Homo sapiens: one gene and its partner. The protein of the gene in region 1 interacts with the protein of each later gene in a pairwise test. Each region holds a gene or a part of one and is shown on either strand. Other genes may lie near its edges. The genes, in order: SAMD4A and NUTM1.

Evidence for each region.
Region 2: the proteins of SAMD4A (region 1) and NUTM1 interact in binary tests that used the Homo sapiens proteins (3 or more experiments, as listed by UniProt).

What each region holds. Positions count from the first base shown.
Region 1 is NC_000014.9:54,758,919-54,762,831, forward strand, and holds part of SAMD4A (protein Smaug homolog 1), read left to right. Parts: intron 1-1,242; coding exon 1,243-1,576; intron 1,577-3,913. UniProt on the Homo sapiens protein: Acts as a translational repressor of SRE-containing messengers.
Region 2 is NC_000015.10:34,353,159-34,357,071, forward strand, and holds part of NUTM1 (NUT family member 1), read left to right. Parts: intron 1-577; coding exon 578-714; intron 715-1,287; coding exon 1,288-1,574; intron 1,575-1,862; coding exon 1,863-1,979; intron 1,980-2,329; coding exon 2,330-3,913. UniProt on the Homo sapiens protein: Plays a role in the regulation of proliferation. Regulates TERT expression by modulating SP1 binding to TERT promoter binding sites.

The DNA of each region.
Region 1 (3,913 bases):
AAACACAGGGAGAGCAGCTTTGTTGCAGAGGGCCCACCCCAGCCGCCATGCCAGGCAGGGCCCCAGGCTCCCAAGCCCCAGCCACAAGTGTTTGGGCCTCTGTGAGCATCTGGCATAGAGAAAAATATCTATCAGAATCAACTTTTATTTCTTTTTTTAATAAGTAGTGCCCAGTATATCAAACTATATGTGCAGAATGATCCAATTTTATTATACAACACATAAAGACATATATATTATATTACAGTTCTATACATATTCCTCTCCAGAATGATCCTTGTAAAACTTGTCACTCCCTTGCTCAAAACCTTCCCTGGTTTCCCATCTTAGACTAGATTTCAGCATCCCTGCCCTGGCCCAAGGCCTCCAGGCTCAGGCCTAGGTGTCTGACGGGACACCATTGCCCACCTGCTCCATCGCAGGCCTCCTTGCTGTTCCTCAGACTCCCCCCTCAGAGCCTTTGCCCTTGCTGTGCCCTCCACCTGGAGCGTTTCTCCCCAGGATCCTCATGCCCACGCTCATTTGGGTCCCTGCCCCATGTCACCCTCTCCAGGAGCTTCCCCTCATAGCAGCCCCGACCCGTACCACAGCCCCTGGCATGATATAGTTATCTCATGGCTGGATGTCAACTCCTTGGGGAACCCTAAAGGCAATGAGGCAGCCACGATATGCTCATTTTGTACACAGAGAAACTGAGGCACAAATTGGTTAAGCCATTTGCCCAGGTTCACATGGGAGTGCAAGAATCCAAACCCCAGCCTCTGACCCAGAGTCTCTGCTCTTAATCGCTACCCTGTGCTGCGTGTGCCATGGACTGAGTGATGGTGTGAACAAGCTATTTCATCCAGAACATACACAGGACACAAAGCCATCATGTCACCCAACTTTGTTGTACAGCTCCTAAAGCATGTGACTGTAATATGTATAACTGCATTTTACAGAAATGCACAGAGGAAGGCAGAAAAGGAAATATACCAAATTGTTTTCGTGGTCATCTCTAGATAGTGGGATTTTCCGGTGGTGTGTATTTTCCTCGCTATACCTGTCTGTATTTTCCAAGTGTTCTTCCTGGGCCAATATTAGAATGATGAAACGAAAGTGGTCCCTTTTCCCAAAAACGTCCTGATGAGGGTACCAGCAGCCACGAATCCTGTAAGAGCTCAGGGCAGGGGAGGGCAGGTACGGGGGTGGATGACCCTTATTCCTGAGCCTAACAGAGGTCTTCCTGCTCTCACCGTCCAGGACATCATCGAGGGGGGCAGCCTGCGCATCCCGCTCCAGGAACTGCACCAGATGATCCTGACTCCGATCAAGGCCTACAGCTCCCCGAGCACCACCCCCGAGGCTCGCCGCCGGGAGCCCCAGGCCCCGCGTCAGCCCTCACTGATGGGCCCCGAGAGCCAGAGCCCCGACTGCAAAGATGGGGCCGCAGCCACTGGCGCCACGGCCACCCCCTCGGCCGGGGCCAGCGGGGGGCTCCAGCCGCACCAGCTGAGCAGCTGCGATGGGGAGCTGGCCGTCGCCCCCCTGCCAGAGGGGGACCTCCCCGGGCAGTTCACACGCGTCATGGGGAAAGGTAGAGCCTCATTCGCCCATTTCTTTTTTCTTCTGGATACCACTAACCAGAGCGACAGGCTCCTGGGGGCTTCCCCTGGGTGCTGGATAAATTCCCTGTCCAAGTAGACATCATTAGCTTCATCTTACAGATAGGGAAAGTGCAGTTCAGAGAGGTTAAGCCTTTTGGGTTTGAACTGCAATCACTGTGACCCCAGGAGACCTACTCCTTAATCCTGGCTCCTTTCTCTCCCAACTCCCTCAGACTAGGGGATGCCAGCCCTTTTATTACAGTGCTCATTGGGCCAGTGGACCCTTGCAGGAGGAAGGTGGGAAGGACTTCGAAAAAGATGATTTTGGGAACAAACCGTTCACTCAGCATCTCACCCTCTCTCCAAAGCAAAAGCGGCAGAAAATGAGTGACAAACTGAAGGGGCACAGACGCCTTTAGCCAGAGCCCAAAGATCTCCCTGTGCAGAAAAATGCCAGCCTTGGCAGTGGCCTCTCTCCTCACCACTGAAAGTGTTCTCAGATGTGGCCATGGTTTGGAGAATTCCCAGCATGGAACTGTTTTGTTCTCATTCTCCCGTGTCTGCGTTTATATTCTCTCTTCACGGCTGGCCTGCCATGTGAAATGCTCTAGTACGAATAGCTTGTGCTTATTTAGCTTTTCCTCTATAGCAGACACAGTTCTCCGTGCTTTACCTATAGAGCTTACTTAATTCCCAAGTTATCCCATTTTACAGAGGAGGAAACTGAGGCACACAGGCTAATTAGCCCACCTGAGCTTACACAGCTGATGGCAGGGCTGGAATTTGAACCCTGCAGTCTCTCCATCATGCACGTGGTTACCACTGTGCCTTCTTATCAGCTCAAGATAGAACAAGGTTAAGTTTCATGTGATGGTTCTCTCCGCTGTGAGGTGACAAAATCCAAACCTAAAGAGTCACGTGTCATCTGGCGCCTCCTTGTTACCTCTACAGCCCTTACCACCTCCATTCTACACTCCAGACTTTGTATCTTTGAGTTCTCAAAAGTTTGCATATTTTCCTGGCTTCTGAGCCTTTGTGCACACCTCCCCCTCTGCCTAGAACCTAGGCCCCTACTAGTTTATACAAAGCCTTCATGTGAATTACAAGATGGTGCCCTGTCTGGGTGGACACAGCACTGCTAGCACTCACCTTGGCATGCACTTGTGCAGTGCACAGCCTGCACATCCACATGGGACAGCCTTGCCTATAACACTCTTTTCCTCACCCCATTCCCTTCACCTGGGTCATGCCTCCTTCTCCAGGTCTTAGCCAAGTCCTCACATGCTCCAGGAAGCCTGCTGATCCACTGGGCTGGGTGAGGTACCCCCTTTCACCTGCCCCACGTCCCCCTTTACTTTCCTTGTCTTAGCCCAGTTCACACTAGATTGTGATTGCCTGTTTGCTTGACTGTATCTTCATTAGTCTGCAGCACAGACCACTTTTAATAGCTACTCAATACCCTGCTTTTGTAGCACAGTGCTTACAGTAGATGCCTCATAAGTAGGCGGTGCAAAAATTGAGGGATGACACCAGTATCTAAAGTTAGGCCTTCCCACAGACCATCCAAGCATACATGCTGGGTGCACGCCTGTCGGGGAGGGTAGACTCCACAGCGTGGTCCTTTGGGTAAGAGCGCCCCTTTCTACCTGGGCTACCCTCTGCCTTTTCTGGGGCAGACCCTTATTTCCATATCCTTGAAAATGTCCACCAGTAGAATAATTTATGCTTAATTGGGTGTCTTACAAGACATCTTGATTATTTTTTAACATGTGGCAATGCCAGCACTTTTCCTTTGGAAGGGGAAAACAATTTTTTCTCTGTTATTGTCCAATATTTCAGACCATTTTAAAAAACCAAGTTTGCAGTAAGAACAACCCCCACCCTTCCACCACCCACCTTAAGGCATGTCCTAAAAAAAGACTTAAATTCATAGTAATCTGGTGGAGGAGATGACTCACAGCTTCCCTTGGAGCTTGATGGCCAGGGTGGGCCCTCGCTCTCCCCCACCCACCCCTTAGCTGTGTTGGATTAGAACAGATTTCCCCATGGGTGAAGACACAGCTCTGCCAAGCCCAAGTGGAGCAGCTACTGAACACGCGGCACATCGCCCTACTTCCTGAGAGACCCACAGTGCTATGGCCCTGCTTCTTTACATTTTACCTACGTTAAAGGAAGCTGTAACCCCAGTTAACACTCAGCATACACAATTCAAATTAACAACATGGTGGAAAGTGGAAAACCACCCTCCCCCAACCCCAAACCCTGCCATCCTCATTCCCAGGGATAGTCACTATTAAGTTTTGGGATATCCTTTCAGAAACTTCATC
Region 2 (3,913 bases), on another chromosome or scaffold:
ACAGGCGTGAGCCACTGCGCCTGGCCTCATTCTTTACTTTTTAAAAATTTTCTTGAGGCAGGATCTCACTCTGTTGCCCAGGCTGGAGTGCAGTGGCACTGTCATGGCTCACTGCAGCCTTCACCTCTTGAGCTCAAGCGATCCTCCCACCTCAGCCCCACAATAGCTGTGACTAGACGCGCGTCATCACTCTTGGCTAATTTTTTTGGTATCTTTTGTAGAGATGGGTTTTTGCCGTGTTACCCAGGTTGGTCTCAAACTCTTGGGCTCAAGCAATCTGCCCACCTCAGCCTCCCAAAGTGTTGGGTTTATAGGCATGAGCCACCCCACCTGGCCATTCATTTTCTTAAGCTTCCTAAGTTATGACTATAGGGGAAGGAACTATGTGCTGAGCTCCTGAAGTTTCCCTGGAAATACGATTAAGCCACCTGTGACCACCCTCCTGGGTGACATGACTTAGGCAGACTTTGCCCACCTGAGAGCACTTCCTTTCTTGGCCATGCTTGGCTGTCGTCTGGATTTCTGATGGGTCTGGTCTCCTTCTCAGCATTGCCTATGCCTTTCTCACCCTCTGCAGGTTCATGGAGTTTGAGGCTGAGGAGATGCAGATTCAGAACACACAGCTGATGAATGGGTCTCAGGGCCTGTCTCCTGCAACCCCTTTGAAACTTGATCCTCTAGGGCCCCTGGCCTCTGAGGTTTGCCAGCAGCCAGGTGAGGCTACCCAATTTTGACAGGAGCCGTGGGCCAAAGGCTCAAAGGGATGCATACAGAAGCCAGTCACAGATTAGAGAAGGCATAGCCCAGGCTCTGCCACTTTCCCTCTGGAGAGTGGCATTTGATATTCCAAACAGACCACCCCATAGGAGGCTGGGTTCTCAGGTTCCTTTTGCCCTGAACTAGGTATTGATCTTGGTGAAGTAAACTGACTACTCTCACCGAGACTCTAAATTCAGCACATAATACCTCATCTGCCTAAGAAATGGGGACTGGATTAGGGGGTTTCTTGGAATCTCAGGGATTCCAAAATTCCTCATACAGTGATTCTTAGACCCTCTAGGTCCTAAATCTCCCATGGCTGGCGCTTTTTCAGGTTGGCCCAATCCAGCCTGGAACCATTTCAATGTACCCAGATTGCTGAGCTTACAGAGCTGGGAGGCAGAAGCTGTGGTTTCTGTGCTACTTCCCATTCTCCTGTCCATCTCTTACCTTAGTGTACATTCCGAAGGAGGCAGAATCTGTGGTTTCTGTGCTACTTCCCATTCTCCTGTCCATCTCTTCCCTTAGTGTACATTCCGAAGAAGGCAGCCTCCAAGACACGGGCCCCCCGCCGGCGTCAGCGTAAAGCCCAGAGACCTCCTGCTCCTGAGGCACCCAAGGAGATCCCACCAGAAGCTGTGAAGGAGTATGTTGACATCATGGAATGGCTGGTGGGGACTCACTTGGCCACTGGGGAGTCAGATGGAAAACAAGAGGAAGAAGGGCAGCAGCAGGAGGAGGAAGGGATGTATCCAGATCCAGGTCTCCTGAGCTACATCAATGAGCTGTGTTCTCAGAAGGTCTTTGTCTCCAAGGTGAGCTGGGCCTGCACATCTTGTTTCTAGCAGATCCTTGGGGTGGGTACTCCCGGGAACTAATGATCTGGGGTTTGTCCAATGCAGTAGGACTTAGGTTTTATTCTATAACTGAGTAATGTGTGTGCATGCATCATCATGAGAATGTGTGTAGCCGGTGGTGGTCAGTTTACAATACCGGAGGGGTAAGAGGGGAGAGTTGGGGAGCTCTTAGTTTCTTCTGTAAAGCCCCTTGTTTCACAGGTTACCTGCTTACAGACTTACATCGCTTTTCCTTCTGTTATCCAGGTGGAGGCTGTCATTCACCCTCAATTTCTGGCAGATCTGCTGTCCCCAGAAAAACAGAGAGATCCCTTGGCCTTAATTGAGGAGCTAGAGCAAGAAGAAGGACTCACTCTTGCCCAGGTAAAACTGGGGTATAGGAAATATGAGAACGAGAAGCTTGCAAGATTTTATCTAACCCTACACTGTCGTGGGTGATATGGCTCTAGAGATGAACAGCTTCAGGATTGGGCTTCAGGTGCAGAACGAGTAGGTAGAGGGCTATGGAAACACAGGAAATGAGAATGTAAGGGCTCAAAGCATGGGAATAAGGCACAAGAAGGTGGGAAAGAGCTGCAGTATCTGTCTTTGCTACCATCGCTTAAACTACTTGCTTGCCTTCCTTGCCCTGCCCAAATACCGTCTTGTGCCACCCACTCAGCCACCTCTTTCACAACCACGTATAGAACTGACTATTTGTTCATTTCTTTCAGCTGGTCCAGAAGCGACTCATGGCCTTGGAAGAGGAGGAAGATGCAGAGGCGCCTCCAAGTTTCAGTGGCGCTCAGTTGGACTCAAGTCCTTCTGGTTCTGTTGAGGATGAAGATGGGGATGGGCGGCTTCGGCCCTCACCTGGGCTTCAGGGGGCTGGGGGCGCCGCTTGCCTTGGAAAGGTTTCTTCTTCAGGAAAACGGGCAAGAGAAGTGCATGGTGGGCAGGAGCAAGCCCTAGATAGCCCCAGAGGGATGCACAGGGATGGGAACACTCTGCCATCCCCCAGCAGCTGGGACCTGCAGCCAGAACTTGCAGCTCCACAGGGAACTCCGGGACCCTTGGGTGTGGAGAGGAGAGGGTCTGGGAAGGTTATAAACCAGGTATCTCTACATCAGGATGGCCATCTAGGAGGCGCTGGGCCTCCTGGGCACTGCCTGGTGGCTGATAGGACTTCAGAGGCTCTGCCCCTTTGTTGGCAGGGAGGCTTCCAGCCTGAGAGCACTCCCAGTTTGGATGCTGGACTTGCAGAGCTGGCTCCTCTGCAAGGACAAGGGTTAGAAAAGCAAGTCCTGGGATTGCAGAAAGGACAACAAACAGGGGGTCGTGGAGTGCTTCCTCAAGGGAAGGAGCCTTTAGCAGTGCCCTGGGAAGGCTCTTCAGGAGCCATGTGGGGAGATGACAGAGGTACCCCCATGGCTCAGAGTTATGATCAGAATCCTTCCCCTAGAGCAGCTGGGGAGAGGGACGATGTCTGTCTCAGCCCAGGAGTTTGGCTGAGCAGTGAGATGGATGCTGTAGGCTTGGAGCTGCCTGTACAAATAGAGGAGGTCATAGAGAGCTTCCAAGTTGAGAAGTGTGTAACTGAGTATCAGGAAGGCTGCCAGGGACTGGGCTCCAGGGGCAACATTTCCCTGGGTCCTGGAGAAACCCTAGTACCTGGGGATACGGAGAGCAGTGTGATTCCCTGTGGAGGCACAGTTGCGGCAGCTGCCCTAGAAAAGAGAAACTATTGCAGCTTGCCAGGACCTTTGAGGGCCAACAGCCCACCCTTGAGGTCCAAAGAAAATCAAGAACAGAGCTGTGAAACCGTAGGGCATCCCAGTGATCTGTGGGCAGAAGGTTGCTTCCCATTGCTAGAAAGTGGTGATTCCACACTGGGGTCTTCCAAAGAAACCCTTCCACCCACATGCCAAGGCAATCTCCTTATCATGGGGACTGAGGATGCCTCCTCCTTGCCTGAAGCCAGTCAAGAGGCAGGGAGCAGAGGCAATTCCTTTTCTCCTCTGTTGGAAACCATAGAACCTGTCAACATACTAGATGTTAAAGATGACTGTGGCCTCCAACTAAGGGTCAGCGAGGACACCTGCCCACTGAATGTTCATTCTTATGACCCCCAAGGAGAAGGCAGGGTGGATCCTGATCTGTCCAAGCCTAAAAACCTTGCTCCTTTACAAGAGAGTCAGGAGTCTTACACAACTGGGACTCCCAAAGCAACATCTTCTCACCAGGGCCTTGGAAGCACTTTGCCTAGAAGGGGAACCAGGAATGCCATAGTTCCGAGAGAAACTTCTGTTAGTAAAACA